Regions from separate parts of the Homo sapiens genome. Here regions 1, 3 and 4 are each linked to region 2. The links come from fine-mapping of genetic effects on gene expression. A gene starts in region 2. Each other region holds a variant in brackets. All regions are shown on one strand. Distances are from middle to middle. Region 1 overlaps EVPLL (envoplakin like). Region 2 holds the start of TOP3A (DNA topoisomerase III alpha). Region 3 overlaps ALKBH5 (alkB homolog 5, RNA demethylase). Region 4 overlaps TOP3A (DNA topoisomerase III alpha).

Region 1 (8,101 bases), 68 kb before region 2:
TTAAGAGGCATAAATACGAAGGTCAGTGTTGTCATGAGGTCAGGCAGGGGTGGGCAAACTATGGCCCACAATCCAGATGAAGCCCCCCTCCTACTGTGAATAAAGGTTTATTGGAGCCACAGTTCCTCCCCTGTGTTCACTTCTTGTCTGGGGCTGCTTTGGGGCTGCAGTGGAAAGCTGAGTAACTGCTGAGTAGGTGCAACAAAGACCACAGGGTCCACGAAGCCCAAGATGCTTACTACCAGGTCCTTTGCAGAAAAATCTTGCTGAGCCCTGGGGAGGGGCCAGGTGGCACCAGGGAGGCCATTGGGGAGGCTGGTACAGTAATCCAGGTGAAAAATGAAGGGAGCTCAGATTAAAGCGGTCATGACAAATGGCTGGAATCAGGATATATTTTGGGGGTATGACCAATATATGGATAAAATGGACAGTATTTAGAGTTTCAGATTTTCTTTCTGCCAAAGGATCCCTTTCTTAAACAAAAAAATTATACAAAAGATCAATTAAAAAACTGACCAGGCCAGGCGCGGTGGCTCACACCTGTAATCCCAGCACTTTGGGAGGCCGAGGCGGGCAGATCATGAGGTCAGGAGATTGAGACCATCCTGGCTAACATGGTGAAAGCCCGTCTCTACTAAAAATACAAAAAAAAAAATTAGCCATGCGTGGTGGCGGGCACCTGTAGTCCCAGCTACTTGGGAGGCTGAGGCAGGAGAATGGCATGAACCCAGGAGGTGGAGCTTGCAGTGAGCAGAGATCAGGCCACTGCACTCCAGCCTGGGCGACAGAGCAAGACTCTGTCTCAAAAAAAAAAAAAAAAAATTAACCAAAAATCATGTCAACAAGATTATTTGTGTGATTGAAGCTGGGGTTGAGCCTAGGCACCCTAACACCTTTTCAGCACCCCTAACACCCCGGCTGTTCCAGAAGCACCCTATAGAGCCCCTTGGGTTCAAGCAGAACTTGAAACCACAGATTGGAAGGAATAGAAATCTGCGTATCTTTCACACAAGCCGTAACATTCTAAGCTGCATCTTTGCAGCACACTGACATGGGGCTACTTCACCCACAGCCGGCAAGCAACTGCACCAGTGCTGGGATTTGTGTCCACCGTTATAAGAAGGCAGCTGCTTGCATGAGGCATGGCGGTGAGGAAACAATGCCACCCGGATTTCACCATTGGCCGTGTGGACTGGCTGTACCATGGGCCAGACGCATGTCTTGGGCAGACACTTTTTAGATGCCAACTTGCCTGTAGACAAAGATGACGCAGAGGTGGCCTCAGGGAGGGCCTATGTGGTGGGTTGAATTTGTCCCCTGAAATTCCTATGTTGATGTCCTTAGCCCCAGTGCCTGAGAATGTGATCTTATTTGGAGACAGCGTCTTATGGAAATAAGTTAAAATGAAAAATGAGATCAGTAGGGGGTGCCCAATTCAATATGACTGATGTCCTTATAAAAGGGCAAATTTGGACACAGAGACATGCATAGAGGGAAGACCAGGTGAAGAGACACCGGGAAGGCCACCTACACGCCAGGAGAGAGACCTGGAACAGAGCCTTCCCGCACCGCCCTGGAAAGGGACTTTCCCTGCCGACACCTTGATCTTGGACCTACAGCCTCCAGGACTGTGAGACAGTGAGATTCTGTTGCTGAAGCTGCCCAGTCTGTGGTACTTTAAGGAAGCCCTAGCAAACCAATGCAGCCTGGTAGCCCACAGCTGGTGAAAAGATGGAATGAGCGATGGAGACTCAGGCTTCCTGTCTATACCTCCCAAAGTGCACTATGGGATCTTTTGCTGGGTGTAGGTTTGCAAGATAGTTCTGGCCAGGGTGGGGACGGCGGGGTGCAGGGTGCATAATTTCAGTGTATATTATCATATGTTTATCTTACTGTGTAAATGCTTGTAAGAACAGTTAACCAACTTAAAGTTTATATGCTACTCAAGATACAGGTTTAAATGCTAATAAAAATGGATGCAAATGAAAACACTGTCCTGCTGTGGTCCAGGGAATCTTGATCTTTCCTTCAGAGAGACTTGCAGCTTTGAGCAGGAGCTGCCCTTTCCTTGCTGCCTACTGCATGCTCCCACAACACACATGCACACACACATGCCTTTGCACACAGCTGGACACACGCATACTGTGCTTCATGCCCTCATTAAGGAGGCACAGAAGGGAATGTATCTGTTAGGAAATGAAGACGGCTCAACTCCCTGGTTCCCTGGGTGTTTGCACAGGTGCCCTCTGTGCAGACCATTCTTTGGTCTCTTTCTTCTCTTAGTGAAGGGAGAAGCAGAGCCCCAGTGGGTACCCGGCTACTTTGGGCCCAAGCCAAGGTCACAAGCTTCCTTGGGAGCCTGGTGAGATGGGGGCACCACTGGTCCTCCCGAACCGAGGGGGCAGCGTTCAGTGGAGCCATGAGCCCAGGAAGGTGATAGACAGGATGACTCAGTTCATTAGAAACAACCAAAATCCAGTGAGGAAGGGCAGCCCTCAAAGGTTTTATTCTCCAGGAGGAAGGACTCTCAGGGGCTGCGAGCAGCAGGCACGAGGGCTTTATTGCACCTGCAGTTAGGTGATGGTGACCTACAACTGCACCGGAAACTGGGACCCAGAGTGCCCCGACCTCCTGCTCTGTCTCTCTCTCCCTCTCTCCCTTTCTCCCCCTCTGCCTCTCTGGCTTCTCTGTCTCTCTTGTCATCTCTTGCCCCTTTCCCCATCTCTGTTTCTCTCTCTCTGCTCTCTCCATCCTCCTCTCCCTCTCAGCCTCCTCTGTCTCTCCCCCATCTCTTTCTACCCATCTTTCGCTGCTGCCTCCTCTGCAGACGAGCTGAAGCCAGTGAGTGGGAGGAGCACCACCCAATCCATCCACAGAGAGCTGAGGCTGGGCCCCAGAGAACCGGGTGGTCCAAGGGAGGCCCAGTGCCCCCTGCACCACACCCACTGGAAAAGGAAGCCCCAGCTCTATTCTGTTTTGTTTTAACAGACAGGGTCTTGCTCTGTCACCCAGGCTAGAGTGCAGTGGAGTGATCACAGCTCACTGCAGCCTCGACTTCCCGGGCTCAAGTGATCCTCTCACCTCAGCCTCCCAAGTAGCTCTGACTACAGGCATGCACCACTACATCCAGATAATTTTTGTATATTTTTTGTAGAGACAGGATTTCGTCATGTTGCCCAGGCTGGTCTCCAA[C/A]TCCTGGGCTCAAGTGATCCACCCGCCTCGGCCTCCCAAAGTGGTAGGATTGCAGGCATGAGGTATTGCACCAGGATTTTTTTTTTTTTAAGACAGAGTCACAGTCTGTCACCCAGGCGGGAGTGCAGTGGTGTGATCATGGCTCACTGCAGCCTCAAACTCCTGGGCTCAAGCAATAGGCACGAGCCACCATGCCTGGCTAGTTTTTATTTTTATTTTTTATAGAAACAAGATCTCCCTATGTTGCCCAGGCTGGTCTGGAACTACTGGGGTCAAGCAATTCTCCTGGCTCGGCCTCCCAAAGTGCTGGAATTACAGGTGTGAGCCACCACACCTGGCCCCCATGAAATATTTATACCACAGATATGCTGTATACAGCTTAGGTGCTGTATGTGGATCTGTACTTCATGCATAAAAACAGTTACTTTTCTGCCATTAAGAACGAATTTTCACCCCCCTGGGAACGGCTTCACCCTGTTGAGAATGTGCCCATGCCTTTCCTTCCCTCTGGGACCGAGTGGCAACCACACAGCTCTATTTTATTTTATTTTTTAGGTGGAGTCCCTCTTTGTCACCCAGGCTAGAATGCAGTGGACCATTCTCGGCCCACTGCAACCTCCGCCTCCTGGGTTCAAGCGATTCTCCTGCCTCAGCCTCCTGAGTAGCTGGGATTACAGGCGCGTGCCACCACCTCTAGCTAATTTTGGTATTTTTAGTAGAGACAGGGTTTCACCATGTTGGCCAGGCTGATCTCGAACTCCTGACCTCAAGTGATCGGCCAGCCTCAGCCTCCCAAAGTGCTGGGATTACAGGTGTGAGCCACCGCGACTTGCCAGCTCTGTCTAGTTGAGAGGTGCAGTGCCTCTCCTGTGGGCCGGTGTGCTGTGGGACCTCCCGCCCTGCCGCCCTGCCGCCCTGCCGCTGCCCGAGGGCTCACCCGGCTGTAGTCCTCCACGTGCTGGAGCTGGGTCTCCTGGCAGATGCACAGGTTCAGGAAGTTCTGCCACTCCATCTTCAGGGCCTCCTGGTGGGCCTGGGTACCGCAGCACGGAGCCCTCGGACCACGCCCCGCCCCCGCACCCACGTCCACCCCCCCCTTCCCCGCCCACCACGTCCCTTCTCACTCTCGCCCTGCCCCCAGCGCACCTGGATGGGCCCCACCGCGGGGTGCCGCAGCTCCACCATGCGCTTGCCGTCCTCCTCCAGCTGGTTTACGCTCTGCTCCTGGCTCAGCAGCTCGTGCTGCTTGAAGTGCTGGGGGCGAGTCGGGTGGGGAGCGGCGGTGAGGACCAGGATGGCCCTGGTCGCCCCCGCCTGGCCCCAACCTCTGCCAGCCGACCTCGTATTCCCGCCGCACGCCCGCAGGGTCGGCCATGAGGTCGCTCCAGTCCTGCTGCAGGATGCGGCGCTGCTGCTCCGCCAGGGCGCTCAGCTGCCACGTGCAGCCCTGCAGTGCGTGTACAGGCTGCCCAGGCTCTGCCCGCGCCACGACGCCGCCCTCTGTGCTCAGGACCCGCCGCCAGCAGCAGGGTGGGGAGAGAGAAAGTGGGGGGCAAAAGGCGCCATTGGGCGGCGCTCAGGAACACTGGCCCCGGGCAGGGTCCGGGCGGCCACCCAGGCCCACCTGCAGCCACCCTGCCCGACCCTCCCTCCTGCTCACCAGTAGGTCTCGGTATTGGCTCCGGATGGTGGCGGCATCCTGCCTTGACCAAGGGGAGAAACAAGCCCGTGAGAGGTGGGGCACAGGGAGACGGCCCCCTAAGATCTGGGCAAGCCATACCCCACCCACCCCTATCCCCAGGGCCCAGCCGATCTAGCTCCGGCTCTGACTGGAAAAACAGGGGCTGGGGCTGGCCCCGGATGTAACATCTTCCCGGCTCACCCACCGGCCCCACCAGGCTCCGCAGCTGCTCTCCTTGGTCGTTGATCTCCTTCTGCACGATGTTGAGCTCCGCGATCTGTTCCTCCAGCTCCGCCATGCCCGGCCCATACTGGCCTGCGCAGACCAGCTTCTGCAGGAGAGCCGGCGGCTCAGTCACCACAGGACCAGGGTGGAGAGCCAGAGAACCCCACACGTCTCCCACCCGGAGAAGTGGACTTGGTCATTTGGGCAGAGCGTGGACGAGCCTGAGAGCAGCCCGGGTGCACGCCCTGCAGCTCACCCAGGGTGAGCCATTCTGCTCTGCAGGGTGGCCACTGCAGAGGCCATTCTGCAGTGGCCCCTGAGTCCCACTGGTTCCCAGACGCTGGGCTCAGCCTCAGAAGTCTCCAGCTCCATCCTGCCTTGTCTGTGACCCAGCCTCAGTGCTTCCTGCCTGGACACCTCCAGCCAAGCTCTAGGGCCCTCAGAACGCCCTGCTGCACCCGGGCCCTTCCCCACTGTTCCTCTATTGTCATGATGACACCCCTTCTGTGTGGCATCAAAGCACAACTCCTCAACCAGGGATCAGAATGCCCCATGTCCTGGCTCTGCCCACCTGGCCAGAAATCCCCACTTCCCATCGAATCCTAGGCTTCCTCCTGGCAGGTGCCTTTGCTCCTTCTTTCTGGAATTGTCCTCTCCTCACTACTTCACCCTGACCCAACCGAGCCCTCTCACCCCTCTGAGGTCTCTTCATGTGCCTCCTCCTACAGGAAGTCTTCCCTGACTGCACTGTCTCCTCTGCTGTCTCCCTGCCCAGACCCCTGAGACACCACTATACACTGACTGTTCAAGCCTACAGTCAGGCCCTGGGTTAAATGCAGTTCCGTATCACCCTCTGATCACACTGGGGTGTGACTTTGAGCTCCTGACCTGTTTCTGCTCCAGCACGTGTGCCCAGTCGACCTTGGATCCCACGTCGGGGCGGCAGCACCATCTTCTCGTACAGGGCACAGTACTCCGCACACTCCTGGGTCACCCGCTCGTGCAGCTGCTCGATGCTGTCAAGAAGGTGGCCAGCAGGTCAGGGCTGGGCCTGGGTCTTCCCCAGGGACCCCCAGCCCTGCCGCAGCCCCACTCACTCCTTCTCAGTCTCCTCAGCCTGCGGGTGCTTGAGCCGCCGGGCCTTGTCCACGTCCAGGAAGAGGTCCTTGAGCAGCACCTCGGCCTCCTTCAGGCTGCTGCCCGTCTCCTGCTGGTGCTGCAGGGCCTGGCTCTGCTCACTGTTCAGCCGGTCCTGTGGGCAGGGGATGGGCAGACTTGCCAGGGTCCAGAGCCCCCACACCCCTGCTGCCCATCATTGTGGGCCTGAGCCCCACCTTTGGGACCCCAGCTATGCTGGCCAACCTCGAGGCCCACGCCAGGCACAGGGTCAGGCCCAGGGCGTCCATGAGGCAGGTGACAAAGACACAGGGGAGCCCAGCAAAGAAGGAAGTTGAGCCCTCTCTCCCACCGTGTGTTAGGGGACAGGCGGTGCAGGACAAATGTCATCTGTCCCATCTTCACCATCACCAGGGGGCACTCAGGGAGTGCCAGGCCTGATGATGGGCCTCCCATGCCACCCAGCCTGCCCACACCCTGCCAACTGCTGCCGGGTTCTCACCTGCTGCAGCCTCTTCTGCGTCTCCAGGATGTCCCGCTCCACCTGGTCGGCGCTGGCTTGCATGTGGGAGATGAGCAGGGTCAGCTCCTGGGTGGCATTCTTGGTGGGTGGAGGGGACAGTGGGCAGCTCGGTGGAAGAGGCCCCTCTGTGCCCCATCCAGGTGGCGTCCCCTGCCCTCTCTCCACCCCATCCCGCCCCCACAGCCTAGCACACTGCCCTGACTTTGGGGTCTCTCTCTGCAGGAGGCTCTGTGAGCTAGACCTGGTTGGGGGTGTTAGCACTGCCCCGCCACATGAGGGGTCAAAAGGTGAGGGTCTCAGGTCTGTGTGGTGCTGGGTGTCAGGCGGCCTCGGTGTCCCAGCCTCAGCCAGCTGTGCTGGCAGTGAGTTCCCGACCCCACCCAGCTGCCTGCCACTTCCCCCCTGTGAGCCGGTAGTACCTGAGCCAGCCTGGCTGGGCCCTGGGAGGGGCAGTTGGGCTGGCTGGGGCAGGGAGGCAGCAGCATGCCCCCCACCCCCACCTCCTCCCACTCCAGCCCTGTGTTCCCCTATACCTCCTCCACCCCAGGGAGCTTTGCCAGAGTGCTGGCTTCAGCAGCCGTCTAGAGGAGCCTCACACTGTCAGAGTCGGGGAGCGGGGGCAGGCGCAAGAGACTGCTGGGCACCCTAACATTCTCCAGAGTTGAGGGTTCAAAGCCCAGATTGTGCCCTAACTTGCTCTGAGTTACGTGGTCAGGGACGGAGGGGAAACCTTGCTTCCACCCCAGGGCTTTTTCTGTGCATTCGCCCTGCAGCCTCCATAGAGCACCTGCTGTGTGCATGCAGTCACTCTGTGGAGGTCACAAGGCCAAGCAGACCTAAAAGAGGGCAGATTGGTCCAAGCCTTATGAGCACAGTGCCTTATGGGGGATCATTATCCTGGGGCAGGGGAAGCCTTGAACTGGGTCAAAGGATGGGCCCCCCCAGGCAACGGGACAGTGCTGGTGAAGGCACAGCAGTCTGGAAGAACTCTGTGGCCAAGACAGCCTGGTTTCATCTTTCTCCATCATTAATGCTGTGTGACCTTGGGCAAGTTACTCAACCTCTCTGTGCCTGAGGTTCCTCACTCGTAAAGCAGGATTTTAATAAAAATATCTATGCCTTAGGGCTATTGTGAGCATTAATTGAATTTATCTGTCTGAAACATCCAGTGCAGGCCTGGTGCAGAGTCGGCACCCAGCACGTGTTAGTTTTTATCCCACTAGAGGGCTAGTGCCTTGAAGGCAGGGGCCTGTTGGTTCTGTCTACAGCGACATCTCCAGTGCCTAGAACAGTCCTGGCATGCAGTAAGTGCTCAGTAAGTTCATGTCAAACGAGTGGATCGCACGTGAGGTGATCCAGAGCCA
Region 2 (8,095 bases):
GGCCAGCAAGACTGGTGTTCGGAGGTGAGAGTCCTGAAAGAGAGTCCATCATGTGAGCAGTGGGCCTGAGTGAGGAGGCACACTTCTGGGCCGTGGTGCTCAGAGTGCAGAGCCTCTGCAGCGCAACACCTCCGAGGATAGGAAGGTCACAACCACCGAAGACATCTCTCCTGCTCGTGATTTTTAAAGCTGGGCCTCAGGTAGGCCCCAGTCTGCCTGCCTGTGTCGGTGCCGGTTCCACCCTCTGAGTGCTTCTCAGGGCCAAGCACTGCACTGTGCTGTGTTTTTTTGGACATGCACTAAACGTGGACCCTTCCGATGGCTCTCAGGTGGGCCCCGGGAGCCCTTCAGAGGTGTTCAACATGATTGGGTGACTGAATGAGATGGTTGGTCCGAATCCAGACAGCGAGTGGTGGCACACCAGGACTTGACCCAGACCACCCACTGCTCCCGCTAACTGCCACAGCCCACAACAGTTTCATCTTATCATACCCTCAGGTGGCGTCTACTGCTCACCTCCCCCAGGAATTCTTTGGGTGAGCTGTAGCCCATCCCATTCCCGTTTGGCCCCGCAGGGGACCCTCCAGGGTGCAGGGCTCCCCACACCTGCCCGCTGCACCTCATGCCTGTGTAGGATGCTGGAGGCAGATGCTCCCAGCACCCAACATCTGCACGTGCTCTGAAGGTTGAAAGAGCACTTACAGGGACAGCAGCCTAACCCTTTCCCCCGGAGTCATCTGTCCCTTCTGATGGGCCTTTTGCTTTTATAGAGAGATGCTCCCTGCAGTCGGGCTGGCAATGGCGACAGATAAATTCCATGTCTTACCTCACACCAACCGAATCAGAACCTCGAGGGCTTGTGACTCAGGAATCCATGATTTTAAAAACTTTCCGGCCAGGCACGGTGGCTCACACCTGTAATCCCAGCACTTTGGGAGGCTGAGGTGGGCAGACCACCTAAGGTCAGGAGTTCCAGACCAGCCTGGCCAACATGGTGAAACCCTGTCTCTACTAAAAATAGAAAAGTTAGCCGGGTGTGGTGGCAGGCGCCTGTAATCCCAGCTACTCAGGACAGTGAGGCAAGAGAATTGCTTGAACCCGGGAGGCGGAGATTGCAGTGAGCCAAGATCGCGCCATTGCACTCCAGCCTGGGGTACAAGAGCGAGACTTCGTTGCAAAAAAATAAAAATAAAAATAAAAACTTTCCCTAATAATGCTGACACAGCTCGGGGACAGATGGGGATTGGCAACCACCTAGGAACTGCAACCCCCTCACATGACAGACAAGGAAATAGAAACCAGAGAGGGGGATGACTTGCCAAAAGTAACACAGTGGTAGGAACTGGGCCCTGTCTAGAAGCCAGGCTTCCTGATTCTGGCTCCACCACACCAATATACCTCATCCCTATCTGGCCAAGGCCCTTCCCCACCACCTGGAACCAGTTACCTCTGCAAGCCAATAAGCTTCCACTTCTGAAAATCCATAATGTGCAAAGGGGAGGAGGCCCAATGTTTCACGGGCTTAGCGTAGCAGCCATAGCTGGGGACAAAGATAGCCAGTGCAGTCACGAGTTTCCTGACTATGGCCTCATCTTCCCCCAGGACCACAAGTGTCCTCCCACTGAGCAGGGAGTAGATGGCTGGGTGGGCAAAGGGGTACTGGCGGATGAATTTTAAGGCGTTCTGGCCAGCCCTCTTTTTATGCCTATCGGAAGACAGGCCAGCAGGATAAGCAGAGGGGATCCTGTCTGAGCTGGTGGACGCTACACTGCTCACGTAGCTGGTGGTGTCTGAGTAGTTGTCCAGGCTGGTCTTACTGATGTCCCGGCTAGCCAGCAGGTGGCTCGGGTCCAGCTCATAAGCGGGAAACCCTTCACAACTGTTGTCTCGGGAAGAAGGGTTGGCATTTTCCACTGAAAAGTCTACACGGAACCCCTGGTCCTTCTGCCTGTGGCGCTGTGGGGGGCTGCTCACCACCCCATCCTCGTCAGAGTGTGTGTGGGCTGGAGTGGAGGGCAGCACCAACTGACCATCGCTCTCCTTCCCAATACAGCAGGAGGAGTCTATTTGTGATGGGGTGTTTTCTATGCTGCCTTCCTCTGTCTCACCCAGTTCTGGAGGACTGATGCTTGCCTGGAAGCGGATGGCTCCTTCATTGCCATCTGGATATGATTCTTCTTCATTAATGGCACTTGGGTAGCTGGCCTTAAAGTCATCAGGGATGAGGGCCTCAGAGGGGCAGGTACTGAGGACTTCAATACTGTCCTCGCTGATGGTCCTGTGGCTGACTGCTTTGCTCCGGACCACCTGGGGGCTCAATGGTACTGTGAGGCTTGCCTGGCTGTCAGATTTAGAAAGCACGGAGGTGGATTTCTCCGTGCCCAAAACTTCAATACTTTCACCACTGCTGATACTCCCTTTCATATCCATATCCAGGTAGTCCAAGTTTTCCTGGGGGTCGAAACTGCTCAACTCAGTCACTTCCACTTCCTTGTACTCCTCATCTCCCAGTTCCTGCTCCATCTTGATCAACACAGACTCCACACTGGACTTGTAAGAACCAACACTAATTAACACTTTAGGAATTGGGCATTCTTCTAGAGAACTGGAAGGCGGCCTGTCTTGACTGGGCTTAGAGGGTATGCTTTCTTGTTTCTCCACCATCCTGTCATCGACCTCCACAAAGTCTTCAAAGAGAAAGTTTGTTATATGCTGTTGTTTTAGAAGTGCTCTATCAATCTGACTGGTCAGGAGGTAACACAGGTCTCCTCTGAACATGTGTTCAATGTGGCTGAGCTGAGCCAGGGTCTGGGTGAAATATTCAGTGTCACAGAGCTCCTCCAAGGTCTTCAACTTCTTGTCAAAACACTTGGTGGACTTTGCTTTGATAAGTTTTGGGGTGTAGGCTGGTCTGCAGGTGTAAAGGTCTGTGTCGGCAGACTCATCAGGGTTAGAGGTAGTGGATGCCTGGCTGGCCTGATCCTGGATGTGCTCCATCTCACCAGGACACAAATCATGCCCCTTCAACTTCCGATGAGGGTATGAGCGGATCTGCTTCAGCAGGTCTTGATGTTCAATGATGGACTTCTCCACACTGGCCAGTTCATTGGCTTTCTCAATTGCCTGAGATGAGTAAAAGCCTTTGTCGTTGGCTTTCTTCTGGATCTCCGTTTCTGTGTGTAGCACTGTCCTGGTGTAATCCAAGTCTTTCAGCTTTTTTTCAAGTTCCCCAGCAAATGCCTTCCTGTTGCCAGTCTTCAAGCACTCAGAAGCTCTGGAAAATTCGGCTGAAAGCTCCTGGAACTGCTGCATGATTTTATGCTGGTCTGCAGAGATATAAGCCATGCAAAACGGCCTCACGAAGCCACGGGCCTCCAGGTCGTATAGGGTAAGGTGGTGCACGTATGCAAAGGCGCCCTCCTTAGAATCTCCCAGCACCACCTTGGAGTCCTCCACGAAGTTCAGCTTGGGGTAGGCAGATCCAGGAGGATGGCCCACGAAGGAAGCCTGGTAATCCACAGACATGATACGCAGGGAGAAGTAATTGAGATCAAAAGTGCCAAAAACTTTGGTGTCATTGGGGATGGTCAGTAAGGGTTGGGGTCCCACCTGCTCAGAGAACTCGGAAATAAGAATGAAGTCCCTCGAAAACTTGGCCCCGGACAGTTTTGACCAGGGGTTAGCACCCTGACTGGCGAAGGGGAAGAGCGGCACCGAGTACTCCTCAGGCAGGGCCGGCTCATTGTAAGGCTCTTCTTCATACTCTTCCTCTTTGGTGAAGGCCACTACGTCAGGGGCGCTGATCATATTTCCAGATATATGAAGAAAACATTGAGAGGAAGTGGGAAAGAATGCGGTGTTAATCGACGCGCAGAAGGCAGGCCTCCGGAGAAGGAAGTGAAGCCCTTACGGCCTTCTTTGCGACTCCCCGAACCCGGGGTCCTAGGCTGCTTCTCACACACCCGAGGAGAAGAACTCTAGCAGCCCCCTCACAGTTGTAGCTCCTCCGGAGCTCTCTGAGGCCTCATGAACGCCAAGGCCGCAGGCCCAACTGCCCTTCTCTTCTTCGTCCGGCGAGCGCGGCCAGCACAAGAAACCTGCTGCGAAATCACCTGCACTCTCCGGAACCCACTGCGACAGCAAAAGCCCCCGCTCTGAACAAGGCTTAACGCGAGGCTACGGGACGCCGCAGGGGTCAGCCAAGCGCTGCTGCCCCTCACTGCCCGAGGGCAGAAACCGTCGCGGCTCCTAGGACGCCACAACCCGGATCCTGCTACCGCGGCGCCGCCATCTTGACATCACATGACTCCTGGTGTCCGCGCCGCGTGACCCGGAAGCGTCCTCGTAGACTTCCGAGCAGGAGATTAAAAAGTCATGAGAAAGAGGCCTTGGATGGGAGTGTCTGGCGGCTCCCCGCAAGAAGGAGTCCGATTAACCAACCACTGCCGGGAAGGAGGGGAAAGAGGGGCGGAGTGAGACGGGGGCGGCGGGAAGGTGGCAGAGGGGAACGTGCTTGGACGAGGGGCGCGGGACAGTCTGGGAGTTGTAGTTCCAGGTCGCTGTGGGGCGCGCGCCTGGCGGAAGTAGCTGGAGAAGGCGGGCGGAAGTTCCACGCCAAGATACTGGATTCGGTGCTGAGGCGGCGGCTGCGGCACGGGAAAGGCTCAGTGACTGAAGCTCCAAAGGCCAGCAGGCTGGTGGGGACGTGACCGAAGCGAGGCTCTGGTTCCCTTTCGGTGGGCGCCATTTGAGCCTCATCTCTGGCTTCCCCAGGATGCGCCGGCAGCCGGGGAGCGGCTCCGGGCGCGAGGTCTGAGGATGATCTTTCCTGTCGCCCGCTACGCGCTCCGGTGGCTGCGACGGCCCGAAGACCGTGCCTTTTCCCGCGCCGCCATGGAGATGGCCCTCCGAGGCGTGCGGAAAGTCCTCTGTGTGGCCGAAAAAAACGACGCGGCCAAGGGGATCGCCGACCTGCTGTCAAACGGTCGCATGAGGCGGGTAAGAAAGCGCGTTCCGATCAGCTGCGTGCCTTAAGGGAGGCCCACCGAGCGGGACAGCGTGGTGGGCGCCAAGAATCGAGATGAAGGCGATTATCTCCCATTTCTCAGGCCTCACTGCCCCTCGTCTGGATTATTGCAGTGGCCTCCTGTCTGCTCTCGGACTGGAGTGCATTTTAAAACGTAGTTGATACATCTCACTCATTTGCGTGGAAACCTTTTGTTTTGCTTGCGCTTAGCAGGTTCCCAAACTTGTCTGATTCTCGGAATCGCCTCGGGCGCTGGCTGCCCTTCGGGTCTTGTGTGAGGCTGGGGAAGTGTGTATTTTACTGTTTTTCCCTAGAGATTCAGAAATTCATTTGGGAACTACTGACCAGATTCCCTTAACTTGGCATTCAAGCCCTGCCCGATCGTTCCCCAGCCAACCTAGCCCTCCCCATCCTGTGCCACAGCCACTGCATTCTACAGCCCTTGTGACTTTCCAGCCTCACAGTGCACACTTACAGCAACACGGTAAGGTTTGGGGATTAGATTTGAAGTCAGCCCTGTTCCTACCCGAATGAACTGATTCTGAGAGAGGTAAGTGGTAAGAATGTGTTCTACACACACGGGAGGCACAAACGCAAGGGAGGATAAGAAAAAGTTTCATAAAGGAGGTGCCACGGGAGACATAAAGAGCTGTCCAGGAAAATATCTCAGATAACAAAAGTAGATCCTGAAATGGTTTTCTGGAGAACTTTTCTAAGAGCATGGGTGGAAGTTCCCTGCTCATTTTTCTTTAGTTCCCAGGGTCCTAAGACCTGTTTCCAGATCAAGGATAGTGGGAGTGGAGCCAGGGTTGTGTGAATGCTGGCTGACAGCTTTACCTGTTTCCAGTGCTAGAAGTCCTGGTGACCAGCCCCAAGGTTTGTCTACTTCTAGACAATGAAGTAGACATTGAAAAATGGTTCTCCTACGCCTAACTTCTTATCCTTCAAGGCTCTGCTGAATTCATTCTCTCTCTCTCCCTTTTTTTTTTTTTTTTTTAAGCAATCCAGAGGTCTTGTATTTATCTATTTTTACCCTATCATACCATGAATCCATAGGGAATAGGTTCCAGCGGCTCAGGCTCTTTTCCATTGGTTCTCACAAAGTGTACTTCCCTCAATGGAACAGGCTGGCACTTCAGGTGAACCCTTTCTCTTTGACTTGCTTCTTTTTTGATCATTTTCCTTCACACATTTCAGGAAAGATCTTGGTTCTTAGAGTGCTTAATATGCTCAATAGAAACATTAATTCTTTGGGCAAGAATCTAGCCCTTGTTCGCAGCAGTGCCAACAGCATGCTGGGTAACATAGACTTTTCCAGTTCTGCCATGTAACATTTGTGGGTCATTCCCTTTTGAACAGTATGCATTCTCACGAAGTCCTCAATATCACCTTCATTGTAGATTCTGGTGTCTGTGGCCAGAGAAACTCCATATTTTTGTTTTGTTTTGTTTGTTTGTTTTGAGATGGAGCTTTGCTCTTGTTGCCCAGCCTGGAGTGCAATGGTGTGATCTCAGCTCACTGCAACCTCCGCCTCCCGGGTTCAAGCGATTCTCCTGCCTCAGCCTCCCTAGTAGCTGGGATTACAGGTGCCTGTCACCATGCCCAGCTAATTTTTTGTATTTTTAGTAGTTTCACTGTGTTGGCCAGGATGGTCTTGAACTCCTGACTTCAGGTGAGCCACCCGCCTTAGCCTCCCAAAGTGTTAGGGTTACAGGCGTGAGCCACCGTGCCCAGCTCGAACTCCATGTTTTCTATAAGGCCAGGAGAACATACATCAGATGCCTCGTCCTCTTTTCCTTTGTGTTCGTCATTTTGGCAAATTACTCCAAGATGGCAGTTCCAGCCAAAAGGAAAGACTTTTCTTGGAAAGAGAATTTTTATTTTTATGTACAGAAAACACAACAGTGTGTACTTAACCCAGTTTAGTGGCAAATTCTTTAGCCTTTGCCTTTTCTAGGTTGGTAATGCAAGCTACAGATTTTGGACCCAGGGCATTGCCTCCCCAGTGACAGCAGATCTCATATGTCGTTGTAATTTGTCCCACCAGCTTAGCCAGAGCTCCTTTGTCTACCAGAAAGTTAACCTTTGTGAAGGTGACAGTGGTGCAGGTCTTCCTGTGGAATTTGACACCACAGTCTTGACGGTGCAGTAGAGAATCCCCATCTTAGGACACAGCACAGGCAGGAAGACAACCAGCTCAATGGGATCCACCACCAGCTGACCCTTCATGCTCTCTACCAAGTTGGTGACGGTGTCAACCCCTGCTCGAAGTGTAGGTGGTCTCTTAGTAGCGACATCCCCTTTGCTGGAAGCTTTCTTCTCAGCCTGGGCCAACGGTTTCGATCTCATCCCTTGCTCTGTCTCTTGTCTGTACTGTGGGCCAGCTTAAGCAATTGAGTAGCTTAAGTTTGGTAGTCTGAGGCCTGGGTGAACTGGTCAATCCCAGGTGGCACATCAGCCACTTATAGAGTACAGCGGCTCTGCCGCAGCAGCCATTTATAGCGGGACTATTTGACAAAGTGGGTGAGGCCCTTAGGCTAGATATCCAATGCCAAAATTATTAGGGCTTTTCTCAAATGGGATTTACCACCTTTTTGGCCTACTGCTGCTCCATGACAACAGGGGCCAGGGCCACTTCTTCCCCTTGGCCATCTTTCCTTTTGGCATCTGGGGCGGCTAGAGGAGAGAGGCTGCTGAAATGTCTCATCTTCAAGGAATCCTTCCCTCACCACCTGTTCCCCCACACTAGGTCAGAGACCCTTACTGACATGCTGTCATAGCACTCTATTCTACTTGAAAGGCATCTACTAGTTACAGTTAAATAATGGGATGTGCGATCATTTATTTGATTTTTGTCACTGCCTCTCCTTGGACTCTAAACTCCAAAGGACAGTGATTATATTTTGTTAATTGCTATGTCCTAACGCCTAATATGGTGTCTGGAATGCAGGAAACTTTCAATAAATATTAATACTTGGGCTGAGCGCAGCGGCTCATGCCTGTAATCCCAGCAGTTGGGGAGGCTCAAGCGGGCAGACCACCTGAGGTCGTGAGTTCAAGACCAGCCTG
Region 3 (8,101 bases), 120 kb after region 2:
GTGCACTTCCCCAGCTCAGCTACCTGGGGAAGCTGGGACATCCTCCCACTCTTCTCCAGTCCCCTTACACCACAGCTCTGTGCTTCTGCACTCCAGCCCAGTCTGTGAATGGTTCCTGGGCCCACTGAAGTCAGAAGGTAGAAGAGCTTCAGTCACCCAGTAACAGCCATTCCCAAGGTCAGGCCACTGGCAGGGACCTAGCTGGCTGAAAAGCTTCCCAGGGAGCTGATTAACGGTGCAGACTCCTAGCTGTGCTGAGGAGCATCTGACTCAGTTGGACTGGGCGGCCAGGTATGGGAGTCACCATTCAATAAAAGAGTAGCAGCTGGAAGACTGACACTCCAGCTATGGCCACTACCACCTGCACATCCAACTAAGATTTCCCCAAAATAAGCTATTATGGGAAGATGAGAGGAACTCTTGGGAAGTTACTGCTCTGGTTCTATGTAACATTAGAAGTTCCTCTCCAGGTTCCTGGCCTGGGCAGGCCACCCATCCCTGGCTGCAGTTGGAGGTACCAGGTACAGCCTGAGAAGAAATGACTGGAGGAGAGGCTGGAAGAGTGCTACACTCTGGACTCCATTGTTTCCGAGTTCTTGCCTATGCTGGTTATCACAGAAAAATAAAGTACAAGGCAGATAAAAACTCTTCCCTTCCTCTGACAAATTCTGGGAACAGTCTTAGGCTAGAAAAGAGAGGCTGCCAACCCCACCAAGTTGACCCAAGTTTCTGGAGCTCCCACGTGTTCACTGCTCTGCCTGTACCATAGGACTGTCCCACAGATATGGATCATACCCATCTACTATAGTTAAAACAGACTAAAAGTTTTGACTTGGCAAAGTGGCAAAGCCATACCAAAGAGACTTCACCACTACAATATTCTGGAGTTATGGGCCCAAAGGACCAGGATGCCAAAGTTATTGTTTACTGACTAAAGTTGATGCACCAGAAAAAATTCCCAATGACCAAAGCTGGAAGAATTTGAGCATAAAATAAATTCCTAGGAGTCCATACTTACATAAAAAATATACTTATATAAATAAATGATTGAATAAATGAAGGAGAGTAGACCAATCCCCCCTGCAGAAGAATTCTAAGTAATTCACCTGCATGCTCCCCCTCAAGGAGATGGTGCTAACTCCCACACTCTTTAACTGTGGGCATGCATGGTGACTTCCTTCCTAAGGGTACAGTATGGACAAGGAAAAACAGTAATTTTACAGTGGAAAACCTGACAGTGCATTGGCCAGATGATCAATATCAATAGTGTTAAGTTACATTGATAGTATATATTCTTGGTTATGTAGTAAAAATGGCATACACTTTACCATAAAAACATCAGACAAATTCTAATTGAGAGATTTTCTATACAATACCTAACCAGTCAATATCATCAAGAATAAGGCAGGCTGGGCATGGTGGCTCACACCTGTAATCCCAGCACTTTGGGAGGCCAAGGCAGGTGAACCACTTGAGGTTGGAAGTTAGAGACCAGCTTGGCCAACATGGGGGAAACCCCATCTGTACGAAAAAATAAAGTTAGCTGGGTGTTGTGGCACACGCCTATAGTCCCAGCTACTCAGGAGGCTGAGACACGAAATCACTTGAACCTGGGACGCAGAGGTTGCAGTGAGCCGAGATGGTGCCACTGCATTCCCGCCTATTCCAGCCTAGGCGACAGAGTGAGACCCTGTCTCAAAAAAAAAAAAAAAAGAATAAGGCAAAGTCTGAGAAACTGTTACAGCCAAGAGGAGTCTAAGAGGAGTCTGAGTTGATATGTCAACTAAATGTAACGTAGGATGATCTTGGGACAGAAAAAGGACATTAGGAAAAACCTAAGGAAATCTAAATAAAGTATGGACTTTAGTCATACCAATAAAAAATTAACAAATAGGAGAAATGGGATGCAGAGTACATGAGAACTCTGTACTATCACAATTGTCTGTAAATCTAAAACTATTCTAAAAAATAAAGTTTAATAAAAGGAAGGAAGGAAGAAGACGACAGACAGCAAGTTTTATGGGTCAAGCCTAAGTTTACGTGCTTGTTTTGCTCTGCTCACTGACTTCTATGACTCTGGGCAATCACCTATCTTCTCTGGGACTCTATTCAAAAGGTAGGCGTGAACCAGGTATGGTGGCACTTGCCTCTATTCCCAGCTACTGGGGAGGCTGAAGCAGGAAGAGAGCTTGAGTCCAGGACTTTGAGGATGCAGTGAGCTATGATGGCACCACTGCATTCCAGCCTGAGCAAGATGGGTGGACAGTGGGGCAAGGCTTGTCTTGATCCAATGTCTGTGAGGCTATGGCTTCTTCCACTCACCCCGTGAAAGAAATAAATGCTGGTGAAGCCAGGTTTGTTGATGTTAAGTAGCACATCCCTGATTCCCTCCCCAGAGAAGAGCCACAAGCCATGATTCTGCCGAATACTACATCCTAACCTCCCACCCTTGTCTCCTCTCTTCACTCCCTGTTCCTTCCAGCAGTGAAAACCCAGGCATTTTTAAAGCAGGCTGCTAAAGGCACAGTCTAAAAATAATCACCAAGAGTACGTGTAACAAATAAGAACGAAGGAGGTGAGGAATAGAGGCTAAGGGGTGGGGTGAGGTTTGGAAGAATGTTGCCCAAATCTTGTCTCAAGATTATACCCACAAATATTGGGCGTATATGCTTTTGCTCAGTCCTAAACTCCCTAAATAGAGTACTTAATTTTCTGATAAAACAACAAAACAACTTTATCCTCACAGGATTCAAATAAAAAGAGAACTTAACAGTTCTGCTCTCCACTCTGCCATGCCACTGATACATAGGAGCTGAGTTCTAAGTGGACCCAGAGCTACATCTCCAGACAGGCCTGCAGGTGAGGCAGAAGGTCAGACATCAAGGCACTTACTTCCTGAGGATGATGACTGCTCGGCGCTCCTTGATGTCCTGAGGCCGTATGCAGTGAGTGATTTCATCAGCAGCATATCCACTGAAAAGAAACACAGAACATGTGACCATGAAGAGTAGACAGACAACCAAAGTTCCTGGGGGATATAACAGGACAGGAACATGGCCTAGGTCTTACGGCTGCTCTCTACCCATTACTTGAGAGTTTCAAGGATCTACATGGAAGGGAATATCATATTAAGTTCCAGGATGCTTTTGCCAAGAGACTGTAATACTCAAGGAAAAACCTGGTATGACACAAAGGAGACCCCTTGGCCACTTAAGGCAGAGGCTGGAAGCAAGACTCTCCCTGAACAGGCCAGGAACCCTTTTTTAAAAGGGTACTCCAGAGAGTACACTGTAGCTCCTCCTCATTCTCCCTCCATTTAGCAGGTAGAGAAAGCCAAGGCAGCCACTGATAGCACTGAGTCACCAGGGAGAGCTAGGACTGCCTCATTCCAAAATAGAATATCTACATGAAGTCTCCATTTGGGGGGATCCAAAATTTTGAAGACAGTTGTGTTTGAATATTTTAAGAATTTCCGGCTGGGCGTGATGGCTCATGCCTGTAATCCTAGCACTTTGGGAGGCCGAGGTGGGCGGATCACCTGAAATCAGGAGTTCGAGACCAGCCTGGCCAACATGGCGAAACCCCATCTCTACTAAAAATACAAAAATTAGCCAGGCATGGTGGTGGGCGCCTGTAATCCCAGCTACTTGGGAGGCTGAGGCAGGAGAATCGCTTGAACCTAGGAGGCAGAAGTTGCAGTGAGCCAAGATCACGCCCACTGCACCTGGGCAACAGAGCGAGACTCTGTCCCCACCACTGACCCCCACCCCCTGCCCCCCGCCCAAAAAAAAAGGATTTCCATCATACTCAGATATCTGTTTATTTTCAACAAGTTACATGACTTTTAAAACCGCTCAGAGACCAACTAATGTGGGTAGATGACTGTCCTCTTCTCAGCTAGCGTCATTCCAATTTGAAACTCTGGAAGCAAGCTCTGAGCTTCCTATACCCCTCACATGCTATCACTGGAAGCATGGCAGCCACAAGATACTCCCACTCCAAGTTACTCTACTGAGCTGCAGCAGTTCTACACACCCAGAAACTCAGCCACAAGCCTAGTAGGACAAGTATGGCTTAGTTTCCCTACCTGGCCCTGTACCACAAACCCTTCTCTCATGGCTGCTGATCAGCTCCCTTCTCAAAGGCTAGTTGTACAGACACAAACTTAACTATTAAAAACACTGCAGGCCTGGGAAGGACCCCTCAAGATGGCCAGGCTGGCCAAACCTCAGCTCTAATAACTGGATGCAAGAGCCAACAAGAGATAAAAAGCCAGACTGCTTCAGGCTCAGCCTTAAGGAAGCACCTCTGATTTGGAAATCTGATTTGAGCTCATGCTGGGGATAGAACAAACCTTTATTT[T/A]ATTTAATTTTTTTTTTTTTTGAGACAGTCTCACTCTGTCACCCAGGTTGGAGTGCAGTGGCACAATCTCGGCTCACTGCAACCTCTGCCTACCGGGTTCAAGCGATTCTCCTGCCTCAGCCTCCCAAGTAGCTGGGACTACAGGCGCACCCCACCACGCCTGTCTAATTTTTGTTATTTTCAGTAGAGATGGGGTTTCACTATGTTGGTCAGGATGGTCTTGAACTCCTGACCTCGTGATCCGCCAGCCTCGGCCTCCCAAAGTGCTGGGATTACAGGTGTGAGCCACCGCGCCCGGCCCAAACCTTTATTTTATAGATCCACCTTCTCCCTCAAGCTGCTCCTAGACAAGAATTTTTCAAAATTTTCTCCATGAACACCAGTCCCATAAGAGACAGTAGACAGGCTAGGCACGGTGGCTCACGCCTGTAATCCCACCCAGCACTTTGGGAGGCCAAGGTGGGCATGTTGCCTGAGGTTAGGAGTTCGTAACCAGTCTGGCCGACATGGTGAAACCCCGTCTCTACAAAAATACAAAAATAAGCCAGGCATGATGGCAGGTGCCTGTAATTCCAGCTATCGCAGAGGCTGAGGCAGGAGAATCGCTGAACCTGGGAGGTGGAGGTTGCCGTGAGCCGAGATAGTGCCACTGCACTCCAGCCTGGGTGACAGAGTGAGACTCCGTCTCAAAAAAAAAAAAAAAAAAAAAAAGAAAAAGACAGTGGACGAATGTCTACAGTGAAATCAATTTGTAAAATACTGATTAGAGTTTCAAAAAGCATTAATATATTTAAAGCACATGAGAATTACTACAGCAAAAGAACCCACTGACTTTGAGCACTTACCAAAGAACCTTCTCTCATAATACCTATTAATACCCATCAGCCCACAGTGAGAAGTACCACACAGGAGTTAGTGAGTTGAAGAGACCTGGGTTCAAATGTGAGCTTTGTCTCCTACTAGCTTTGTGACCTTTGTTAAATCACATGCTGAACCTAAAAACCTGTACAGTTTCTTCATCTGTAATAAGGAGAACAGTAGGTTCTTGGGTATTCATTTTGTTATGCTTTATAATTTAGCTATTCTTTTGCTGCTACTAATATTACAAGATTTTAAAAATGGGGACAGTTTTAAAGATTACAAGATTAAAGTTTTTAAGATTACAAGATTTTAAAAACGGGGCCTCCTCCCTTCCAGGCAGAAAAACAGCATTATATGACTACTTGGTTGACACTCCTGGAAAGGGGTGGTGAGAGGCCTACCTGCAGGGGTATTGCGAGAATTAAGTCAGATAATGCAGGGTGCCTGACACCCTACAATCTTTACTAAGCACTCTGACAAAAGTCAGAGGGCCCTGGACTATCCTGGGGCAAGCCAGAGCCCTGGATTCAGCATCTGCCAAAGAGACATGGTCTGGGCTCCCCCTGCAGGGATCTGCCAGTAGTGGGGGCCGCCTGGGCCCCATTTCCAGAGCTAGGAACTCTAGTTCTCATCCCATGCTTTTATCATTCCACACTGGGGGAATGGGGGTCTAGACTGCAAGACTGTCCCATATAGACACACAATACTTTCCCAAAGAGCTGTCAAAGGTCTCAAAGGCACTTTTTTTTTTTTTTAAAGACAGAGTCTCACTCTGTTGCCCAGGCTGGAGTGCAGTGGCATGATCTTGGCTCACTGTAACCTCCACGTCCCAGGTTCAAGCAATTCTCCTGCCTCAGACCCCCAAGTAACTGGGACTACAGGCTAATTTTTGTATGTTTAGTGAAGACTGTTTCCCCATGTTGGCCAGGCTGGTCTCGATCTCCTGATCACACGTGATCCACCCACCTCGGCCTCCCAAAGTGCTGGGATTACAAGTGTGAGCCACCATGCTCGGCCCCAGAGGCACGTTTCTAAGTCCTGAATCTGCAGTGCTGGCTACAGGCAACCTTCCCTGCCATTGACAAGTGTTATCAATCTGTTTGACTTGGCTATATGCATAACCAAGGGCCCTGACTTCCCATCTCCAACAAGGAACCACTTTTCTTAATGCAGTTCTGGAGCAAATCCAGATGTTTGTCAAAGCTTGACTGCCCGCATGCTCCCTGACCCCATCCCCCAAAGGGCTCTAGAACAAACAATAAGCCATGTCAGGTTCCTGCCACGGAGCCCAGGCCTTGGAAGAACTAGTATGGAGGTAGGGCTGCACAGGCCCACAAAAATGACTTTGGCACTGACCCAACCTGGAAGGCTTATTAGTACTGGTCTTCTAGAACTTCCTAGCAGCTATGACACAGCCCACTGACCCTTTCCTCAGAATATCCGGCTGCTCTGGCAACATGAGCTCAAAGTCCTGATTAAGGGAAGCTCTCCTGGCCAATCTCACAAAATGTCGAGCAGAGACCACAGGGTATTATTTACTATTAAGGAACCTACTTGCTACAAAATAAATTGTCTGAAAGTCTCAGTCGGCCAGCTTGCAACTTAATATGCCCTTGGGTCCAGCCCTACTGCTGGCATGAAAAGTTCCAGGACCTCCTGCTTTTTTGTTTTCACAGGGAAAGGAGAAGAGGAAATAACCTTATGCCATCTGGCTTGCCTGCTCCCTCTCTGGGCTGAGCCCCCAGCCCCAGCCCCAGAGGCACTGACCAGTATATGTTGCAAATGTCACCCACTAGTCCTATACCTCAGAGTGACTCTCGAAGGAGCTGACATGTCTATCTCCTCTTTTGGGGGCCTTTCCCTGACTGCCCAGGCTGGGTTCCCCCTACATTGCTCAACCACACCCTCTCATGCCTCTTTGCTATTCCATCTGGCCTTGTGGAAATTGTGTCTTCCCTTCAAGACAAAGCTCTTCAAAGGCCTTACTCATCCCTGCACAGTGGACACTAAATGAAATGTGTGTTGAGCTGAACTATTCTACCACTTAGAACCTGTTTCTGCCTCTGCAAAACAAAGATCACAGCAAGCCCCTCCTCAGAAGATTAGGTGCAAATTAAATGAGGTGTCTGAAATTTTTTTTTTTTTTTTTTTTTTCGGAAACAGAGTCCCACTCTGTTGCCTAGGCTGGAATGCAGTGGCGCAATCTTGGCTCACTGCAACCTCTAGCTCCTGGGTTCAAGCAATTCTCTGCCTCAGCCTCCCGAGTAGCTGGGATTACAGGTGCCTGCCACCACGCCCGGCTAATTTTTGTATTTTTAGTAGAGACGGGCTTTCACCATCTTGGCCATTCTTGTCTTGAATTCCTGACCTCAGGTGATCCACCCGCCCTGGCCTCCCAAAGTGCTGGGATTACAGGCATGAGCCACCGCACCTGGCCCTGAAAAATTCTTTAAAGAAACTATGCAGGACTGTACATCTCTCCTCTAGGGGACGGTCTTGGAAACTGAGTTGTTATGACACATTTCCAAGATGGCCACCATTTTCCATCTACTCCATGCCCTGCCTAGGCCAGGATGAACCAGAGATGGAGGGACTGTCCAAGATCCCAGCCTGGTGACTGTCTCTCTCCAGCTATGGCTACCTGCCTTACTGACAGACCCACAGGACCAAGAAGGTCAGGCTTTTGGGGGCAGCAGACCAGCCACCTGGACCCAGGGGCAGGATTGTGAGCTCAGGCTCAATTATTTACCAGACCCAAGCCTCCAAGACGACCCATGGCCTAACTTTATAAGAAGTCCTGGGGCTTTCTGAATCCAGAGGGAAGGTCAACCTGCCAAGTCCCAATTCTGTACACACCAAGATAGACAGTACTAAACAC
Region 4 (8,101 bases), 25 kb after region 2:
GATTGTCTAGATAGCACCCAAGCTCTGAGGTAGGATTTTGACTTTGACTTCTCTTTTCTGATACAGAAAAGGTGTTTCTATGTAAAAACCCATAGAGTAGATTCAGATCTTACTTTTGACTCCTCAGCCATCTCCCTGTGGCCCTGGCAAGTGGCAGACAGTGGGTGGCACCTTTAAAAGTTGTTTGCCTGTGAAACTCCTCCCCGCCCCAGTCATATACACCCCAGCACTGAGGTCCTCTAACTGTGCTGTCCAGCCTGCAGCTATTGAGCAGTTGAAATTCAAGTTGTCCAAATTGGGATGCGCTATAGATGTAAAATATACATTGGGTTTTGAAGACTTCTATGAAATAGAATGTAATCTCAGTAACTTAAGTGACTAATTGAAAATTTTAAATTATGCTGGGCGTGGTGGCTCACGCCTGTAATCCTAGCACTTTGGGAGGCCGAGGTGGGTGGATCATGAGGTCAGGAGTTCGAGACCAGCCTGGCCAACATGGTGAAACCCCATCTCTACTAAAAATACAAAAATTAGCCAGGTGTGGTGGCAGGCACCTGTAATCCCAGCTACTTAGGAGGCTGAGGCAAGAGAATTGCTTGAACCCGGGAGGCAGAGGTTGTACTGAGCTGAGATCACGCCACTGCACTCCAGCCTGGGTGACACAGCAAGACTCCGTCTCTTGGGGGGAAACAAAAATTACAAATAGAGACTGGGTATGTTGGGTCACACCTGAAATCTGAGCACTTTGGGAGGCCTAGGCAGGAGGATCACTTGAGCTCAGGAGTTCAAGACCGACCTGAGCAACATGACAAAACCCTGTCTCTACAAAAAAAAAAAAAAATTAGCCAGGCATGGTGCCACACACTTGTAGTCCCAGCTATTCAGGAGGCTGAGGCAGGAGGATCACTTTAGCTTGGGAGACGGAGGCCACAGTGAGCCAAGCTTGCGCTGCTACACTCCAGCCTGGGTGCCACAGCAAGACTATCTCAAAAATGAAAAAGAAAAAACAAATAGAGTCCACATTACAGTTTATCGGACAGCATTGTTCTTTGTGTACTCTAAGAAAAGTCTTGAAGCACACGCTGGTGGAACTTGTCAGGGTCAGTGAGTCTCATGTGCTGCATCAGGGCTGGTCTGTCAGACTGACCCTCAGAGTGGCCAGTGACAAGCCCCAGGCTATGAGGCTGCTGGCCTTTTTCCTGTGCTGTGCTGCCCCTTTTGGCTTCTTTGAGTGTGCTAGCAGGAGAGCCAGCTGCTTTTCATCCCATGAGGGGGTGCATCTCATCTCAGAACTTTTCTGAAGCAGGTAATGTAGGCTGCCTTCAGTTGAGTTGGCTACATCAGATGAGTGTTTGCAGGTGTTAGTGTGTGCTTTCAGTTGTTTATAGACCAATCAGAGAGCCTAGCAATTTCTTTTTCTGTTTGTTTGCCTTGGTTTTAGGTACATCAGCTATCCCCGAACAGAAACAAACATTTTTCCCAGAGACTTAAACCTGACGGTGTTGGTGGAACAGCAGACCCCCGATCCACGCTGGGGGGCCTTTGCCCAGAGCATTCTAGAGCGGGGTGGTCCCACCCCACGCAATGGGAACAAGTCTGACCAAGCTCACCCTCCCATTCACCCCACCAAATACACCAACAACTTACAGGTTGGTTTCCCTGAATGTACTGCCTGCTGGAACCCATAGGGAAGTGCTGGGGGTCAGTAGTAAGGTTTGAATTTACTCTGTGGGCTGTGATTGTAAAAACAAGTGATTTTGAGATCTCTCTCATTTCACAATCCTCTGCCTGGCTTTGATAAAGACCGCCTCATCCCTCCCCGTGGTGGGCCCCCGTCTTAATCCAGCTCCACATCCCACTCTCCATCAGCTCCTGCTGCTTCCCTGCTAGTCCTTCATAGGCAACCCCTGTGCAGACCCCCACCTCCACTGTGAGCCTTGTGGCCTTCCCAGTCCCTGGAACTAGAGAATTCTATCCATCCTCCCAAGGCTGGCTCAGTTTTGGTTGCCTCCTGAAACTTTGCTGCCACCCCAGTCGTGCCACCCCCTGTCACTGCAGTTTCCCACACAGCTCTGCTTGTCTGTCTCAGTCATTTCCTCAGCCAGGGGCAGGCTCTGCAGGCACAGGAGCCATTAGGCTTGTTTACATCTGTAGGCTTCTCACAAAGTTGGGGAAATGCTTGTTTACATCTGTAGGCTTCTCACAAAGCTGGGGAAATCTTAGTCTTTTGTTCTTCTCCTCCTTCTTTTAATAAAATACATTCTTTCTGATTTTAAAAATATGGCCGGACGCGGTGGCTTATGCTTGTAATCCCAACACTGTGGGAGGACAAGGCGGGTAGATCACGAGGTCAGGAAATTGAGACCATCTTGGCCAACATGGTGAAACCCCATCTCTACTAGAAATAGAAAAATTAGTTGGACGGGGTGGCATGTGCCTGTAGTCCCAACTCTCAGGAGGCTGAGGCAGGAGAATCGCTTGAACCCAGGAGGCGGAGGTTGCAATAAGCCGAGATTGCACCACTGCACTCCAGCCTGGCGACAGAGTGAGACTCTGTCTCGGAAAAAAAAAAATTACATGTTCATTTTAGACAAATTAAGAAATACAAAAGTTTATAAGGGGGTAAAATTGCCTATTAAGCATGATATTTAACAATTACAAAGATGTGCCATAATTTATTTTGCCAAATCTGTTTTTTGTGTGTTTTTGATACTATAGTTAACATTTGTAGACATAAATATTTTTGTGGTTCTCCAGTTATTTCCTTTGAAGAAATCCTTAGAAGGGGAATTATTGGATATGTGTATAAATGTCTCATGGGCTTTTGATAGACTGAGGCTCACTAAATCATTGATTACCTAATTGAAAATTACCCTGAAAATTACTGCTTAAATGTGTGCATGAAGTTGGGCTAAGGCCACCAGGTGCAATGTTGCTGTCTCTTGTATTTGAGGAGTGTCTTGCTAACTTCTTACGCTTTCATCTTGTTTTCTGCTTAGATTGCGTTTACATCAAAGAACCACTTCCCAGTCTGGAAGGGAAGATGACTCCTTTGCTTATCTTTGCCAGATTTGAGTTGTGAGATGTGTCAACCTAAACCCATCCTCTCCCCAGGACTTGTTTGCCTGGCACTCCATGTTAGTGCAGGGCCTGAGGAGCAGTGTGGCCTCTTCTGTGCAGGACATTAGGCTAAGGCTACCAGTGATGCTCCTGTCCTTGAGAGGTGATATTCTAGGGGGAGTTTC[G/A]TACTCCTCTTTTCTTCCTAGGGAGATGAACAGCGACTGTACGAGTTTATTGTTCGCCATTTCCTGGCTTGCTGCTCCCAGGATGCTCAGGGGCAGGAGACCACAGTGGAGATCGACATCGCTCAGGAACGCTTTGTGGCCCATGGCCTCATGATTCTGGCCCGAAACTATCTGGATGTGTATCCATATGATCACTGGAGTGACAAGGTAATAAAGAGTGGTCCCCAGTGAGAGGGAGGACAGTTGTGTTGTGAGCCCTGAGTTCTCTAGTGGAGCAGGATCATGTTCCTTGAAATGAGGTTATTTTTTGCCTGAGTGTGCTGATGGAATCATCTGACTGTTGCACCTGCCGCTCCCTGTAGATCCTCCCTGTCTATGAGCAAGGATCCCACTTTCAGCCCAGCACCGTGGAGATGGTGGACGGGGAGACCAGCCCACCCAAGCTGCTCACCGAGGCCGACCTCATTGCCCTCATGGAGAAGCATGGCATTGGTCAGTGGCTCCTCTGGGTAACTCGCATCTCTTGAGCTAAGGCTTACAGTGTACCAGGTACAGGTTTCCTCTAGTCTTCAAACCATTCTCTAATGCAGCTGCTATATCTTTATCCCATTTTATAGTTGAAATAAGGCTCAGAGAGGTTAAGAACTTACCTAAGTTCACAAAGTGTGTATTATTAAAACCTGGTCTGAATAACTCCACAGTCAGTGCTCTTAAACCATGCACTGTGCTGTCCACATAGTAACAGAGACTTTTCCCATGGCTTTGAGGGCCCAACTGGGAGCACCCATTGGCCACATGAGGATTTGTTGTTCTTTCGAATAAGAACAGCATGTAAGGAACCAACAATTAAAACTTGGGACAGTTATCATAAAATCTATCTTCATTTTGAAGTGTCAGATAGAGCCCTGAGCCTCCTTCCCATGTGGAGCATTGGGTGAGGGTGGCAGCTGTCTCTGCAGGTCTGAACCCACACTGCTCACTCAGGCTGCTCACGCTGGCCTCATGTATGTGCCAGGACCCTGCTGATAAGTCCCATGGCTCAAGCTTTGCAGGTAGGGCCTTGTAACTAATCTGCTGTCCCCTCCATTCGTTTTTGTCAAGGCTCTCAAGGGCTTTCTCTGGCAAACCTAGTCCAGGAATACCTGCAGCACAGTGGAGGGGAAGCAGAGCTCCCTGGGCATGTGTTACATAAGCAGCTGCGTCATCCACAAAGGGAGTTTCTTAGGCCTATGACTTGGGAAGCAGTGCTTCAACGTGAAGTCCTTGACCATCACTAGGACATCCAGAAACCCTGCAGGTTTAGGTAAAATTAGTAGAGGTTCACCCGTCATGATTTATTTGATAAAAATGTATGAAGGCTGGGTGTGGTGGCTCACACCTGTAATCCCAGCATTTTGGGAGGCCAAGATGGGTGAATCACTTGAGCCCAGGAATTCAAGACCAGCTTGGGCAACACGGTAAAACCCCATCTTGCTGGGCGCAGTGGCTCACGCCTGTAATCCCAACACTTCAGGAGGCTGAGCTGGGTGGATCACCTGAGGTAGGGAGTTTAAGACCACCAACCTGACCAACATGGTGAAACTCTGTCTCTACTAAAAATACAAAAATTAGCCAGGCATGGCGGTGGGCACCTGTAGCTGAGATTGTGCCATTGTACTCCAGCCTGGGCAACAACAGCAAAACTCTGTCTTAAAACAAACAAACAAACAACAACAACAACAACAAAACAGATCTGGCTGGGCACGGTGACTCATGCCTGTAATCTTAGTACTTTGGGAGGCCAAGGCGGGTGGATCACCTAAGGTCAGGAGTTCGAGACCAGCCTGGCCAACATGGCAAAACCCCATCACTACTAAAAAAATACAAAAATTAGCTAGGCGTGGTGGCACATGCCTGTAATCCCAGCTACTTGGGAGGCTGAGGCAGGAGAATTGCATGAACCCGGGAGGTGGAGGATGCAGTGAGCCAGGATCGCAGCACTGCACTCCAGCCTGGGTGACAGAGTGAGACTCCATCTCAAAAAAAACATTTCTACAAAAAATTAGGTGCATGCCTATAGGTAGGGAGGCTGAGGTGGGAGGATCACTTGAGCCCGGAAGGCAGAGACTGAGGTACAAAGTGTGAGGCCCACAAGAGTGAGAGCTTGGACTAAGCACCAGGGACACAAGGAGGAATAAGACCTCATTTTTTAAGTTCTCAATCTAACAGAAGAACCAAACCAACACATTGAATACAATGTAATAGTTCTGCAGGGAGTAGGCAGGGAAGAAAATGTGATGGGTGGACTGGCATTTGAGCTGGACCAAAACCTCATAGTAAGACTTCTGGATCAGCGAAGGGCAGCCCAGTGCAGGGTAGGCCTGAGGAAGGGCACAGGAGCAGGAAAGCAGAAGCCTGCTGTAGCTGGATTGGAGGGGGGTGGCCATAGAAGGTGAGCCTGGAAAGATGATCCAAGCCTGACTTTGCAGGGCCTTGGCTTGCCCAGTTGAAGGGCTTAGATGGTGGTACATGGTCAGCAGGGAGTCTTCCAGGATTTCTAAGTAAAGGAACCACATAGAGGTACACTTACAAAAAAATAATAATAATATTTTTAAAAGATTATTAACAGGCTGGGCATTGTGTCTCACACCTATAATCCCAGCACTTTGGGAGACCAAGGTAGGGGGTCAGGAGTTCAAGACCAGCCTGGACAACATGGTGAAACTCCATCTCTACTAAAAATACAAAAAATTGCTAGGTGTTATGGCTGACGCCTGTAATCCCAGCTACTTAGGAGGCTGAGGCAGGAGAATTGCTTGAACCCGGGAGGTGGAGGTTGCAGTGAGCCAAGATTGTGCCACTGCACTTCAGCCTTGGTGACAGAGAGAGACTCCATCTAAAAAAAAAAAAAAAAAAAATTTATATATATATATATATAATTATTAACAGCTTTATTTATATACCATACAGTTTATCTCCTTCAAATGTATAATGTACATTTTTTAGCATATTCACAAAGTTGTGCAGCTATCACCACAGTCAGTTTTTTTGTTTTTTTTGTTGTTTGTTTGAGATGGAGTTTTGCTCTTGTTGCTGCAGGCTGGAGTGGAGTGGCACAATCTCTGCTCACTGCAACTTCCGCCACCCAGGTTCAAGCGATTCTCCTGTCTCAGCCTCCCGAGTAGCTAGGCTTACAGGCACGCACCACCACACCCAGCTAATTTTTGTTATTTTTAGTAGAGACAGGGTTTCACCATGTTGGCCAGGTTGGCTGGTCTCAAACTCCTGACCTCATGATCCGCCCACCTAGGCCTCCCAAAGTGTTAGGATTACAGGTGTTAGCCACCATGCCCGGCCCCTAAAAAAATTTGTTTTGGAGAGATAGCATCTTACTCTGTCACCCAGGCTAGGTCACAGCCATGAACCCTGGGTTTCAAGGGATCCTTCCACCTCAGCTTCCCAAGTAGCTGGGACTACAGGCATGTGTTGCCATACCCAGCTAATTTTTTTGTTGGGTTTTTTGTTTGTTTGTTTTGTTTTGTTTGAGACAGAGTCTTACTCTGTCACCCAGGCTGGAGTGTAGTGGCACGATTTCAGCTCACTGCAACCTCCGCCTCCCAGGTTCAAGAGATTCTCCTGCCTCAGCCTCCTGAGTAGCTGGGACTACAGGTGCGCATCACTGGCTAATTTTTGTATTTTTAGTAGAGATGGGGTTTCACTGTTAGCTAAGCTGGTCTCGAATTCCTGACCTCAAATGATCCACCCGCCTCGGTCTCCCAAAGTGCTGGGATTATAGGCCTGAGCCACCATGCCCAGCCAGACTTTTTTGTTTTATGTAGGGACAGGGTCTTGCTATGTTGCCTAGTCTGGTCTTGAACTTGCACCCTCAAACTGTCCTCCTACCTCAACCTCCCAAAGTGTTGGGATTACAGGAGTGAGCCACTGCACCTGGCCAGATTTGCCTACTTTAGTTATTTCCTATAAAGAGCCAGGCACAGTGGCTCACACCTGTAATCCCAGCACTTTGGGAGGCCAAGGTGGGCCAATCACTTGAGGTCAGGAGTTCGAGACCAGCTTCACCAACATGGTGAAACACTTTCTCTACTAAAAATGAAAAAATTAGCTGGGCTTGGTGGCAGGCGCCTGTAATCCCAGCTACTCGGGAGGCTGAGGCAAGAGAATCACTTGAACCCGGAAGGCAGAGGTTGCAGTTGATGGACACTTGAGTTGTTTCTACTCTTTGGCTATTATAAATAATCCTGCTGTGAACAGTTTTGTACAAGGTTTTGTGTGGATATGTGTTTTCATTTCTCTTGGGTAGACTTAGGAGTGGGATTGCTGGTTTACTTGGTAACTCTACATTTAACATTTTTAGGAACCACCAAACTTTTCTGAAGTGGCTGTACCGTTTTTCATTTCCACCAGCAAGGCACTAGGATTCCAGTTTATCCACATCCTTACTAACACTTAGTATTATCTCTCTTTTTGATTTTGCCAGTAGGTCTGAACTGCTATTTCACTGGTTTTTTTGGTTGTTTTTTTGTTGTTATTGTTGAGGTGGAGTCTCGCTCTGTTGCCCAGGCTGGAATGCAGTGGCTCGATCTCCGCTCACTGCAGGCTCCGCCTCCCAGGTTCATGCCATTCTTCTGTGTCAGCCTCCTGAGTAGCTGGGACTACAGGTGCCCGCCACCACACCCGGCTAATTTTTTTTTTTTTTTTTTTGTATTTTTAGTAGAGACGGGGTTTCACCGTGTTAGCCAGGATGGTCTTGATCTCCTGACCTCGTGATCTGCCCGCTTCGGCTTCCCAAATTGCTGGGATTACAGGCGTGAGCCACCACGCCCAGCCCTTTTTTTTTTCTTTTTTTTTTTAAAGAG

The links. PIP is the estimated chance that this variant, and not a neighbour inherited with it, causes the effect.
Region 1: its variant is fine-mapped to the expression of TOP3A in spinal cord (GTEx, PIP above 0.99).
Region 3: its variant is fine-mapped to the expression of TOP3A in whole blood (INTERVAL, PIP above 0.99).
Region 4: its variant is fine-mapped to the expression of TOP3A in whole blood (TOPMed, PIP above 0.99). The same link has a PIP of 0.9 or more in blood mononuclear cells, skeletal muscle and spleen.

The regions. Positions count from the first base shown.
Region 1 is chr17:18,379,616-18,387,716 of GRCh38, reverse strand. EVPLL (envoplakin like) reads right to left here. Exons shown (of 11, transcript NM_001145127.2): 2 at 6,717-6,815; 3 at 6,196-6,350; 4 at 5,987-6,114; 5 at 5,079-5,204; 6 at 4,853-4,891; 7 at 4,532-4,692; 8 at 4,339-4,446; 9 at 4,130-4,225. The coding sequence starts at 6,779. Among named protein-coding and RNA genes, the nearest start is that of EVPLL, 5.9 kb to the right of the region's middle. RefSeq lists a silencer at 4,430-4,539 and enhancers at 4,051-4,621, 4,622-5,193, 7,137-7,638. The variant C/A (reference allele first, on the strand shown) is at 3,193.
Region 2 is chr17:18,311,502-18,319,596 of GRCh38, reverse strand. It overlaps TOP3A (DNA topoisomerase III alpha), which reads left to right and starts at 4,603. Exons shown (of 19, transcript NM_004618.5): 1 at 4,603-4,998. The coding sequence starts at 4,819. SMCR8 (SMCR8-C9orf72 complex subunit) reads right to left here and starts at 4,304. Exons shown (of 2, transcript NM_144775.3): 1 at 1,448-4,304. The coding sequence starts at 3,807. It also overlaps the pseudogene RPL7AP65 and the pseudogene RPL21P121. RefSeq lists enhancers at 4,244-4,293, 3,983-4,506, 4,634-4,983, 4,994-5,083, 5,031-5,554 and a silencer at 4,434-4,483.
Region 3 is chr17:18,189,827-18,197,927 of GRCh38, reverse strand. ALKBH5 (alkB homolog 5, RNA demethylase) reads right to left here. Exons shown (of 4, transcript NM_017758.4): 2 at 2,893-2,973. Among named protein-coding and RNA genes, the nearest start is that of ALKBH5, 10 kb to the right of the region's middle. The variant T/A (reference allele first, on the strand shown) is at 4,363.
Region 4 is chr17:18,286,193-18,294,293 of GRCh38, reverse strand. TOP3A (DNA topoisomerase III alpha) reads left to right here. Exons shown (of 19, transcript NM_004618.5): 11 at 1,442-1,649; 12 at 3,267-3,452; 13 at 3,608-3,737. Among named protein-coding and RNA genes, the nearest start is that of TOP3A, 25 kb to the left of the region's middle. The variant G/A (reference allele first, on the strand shown) is at 3,246.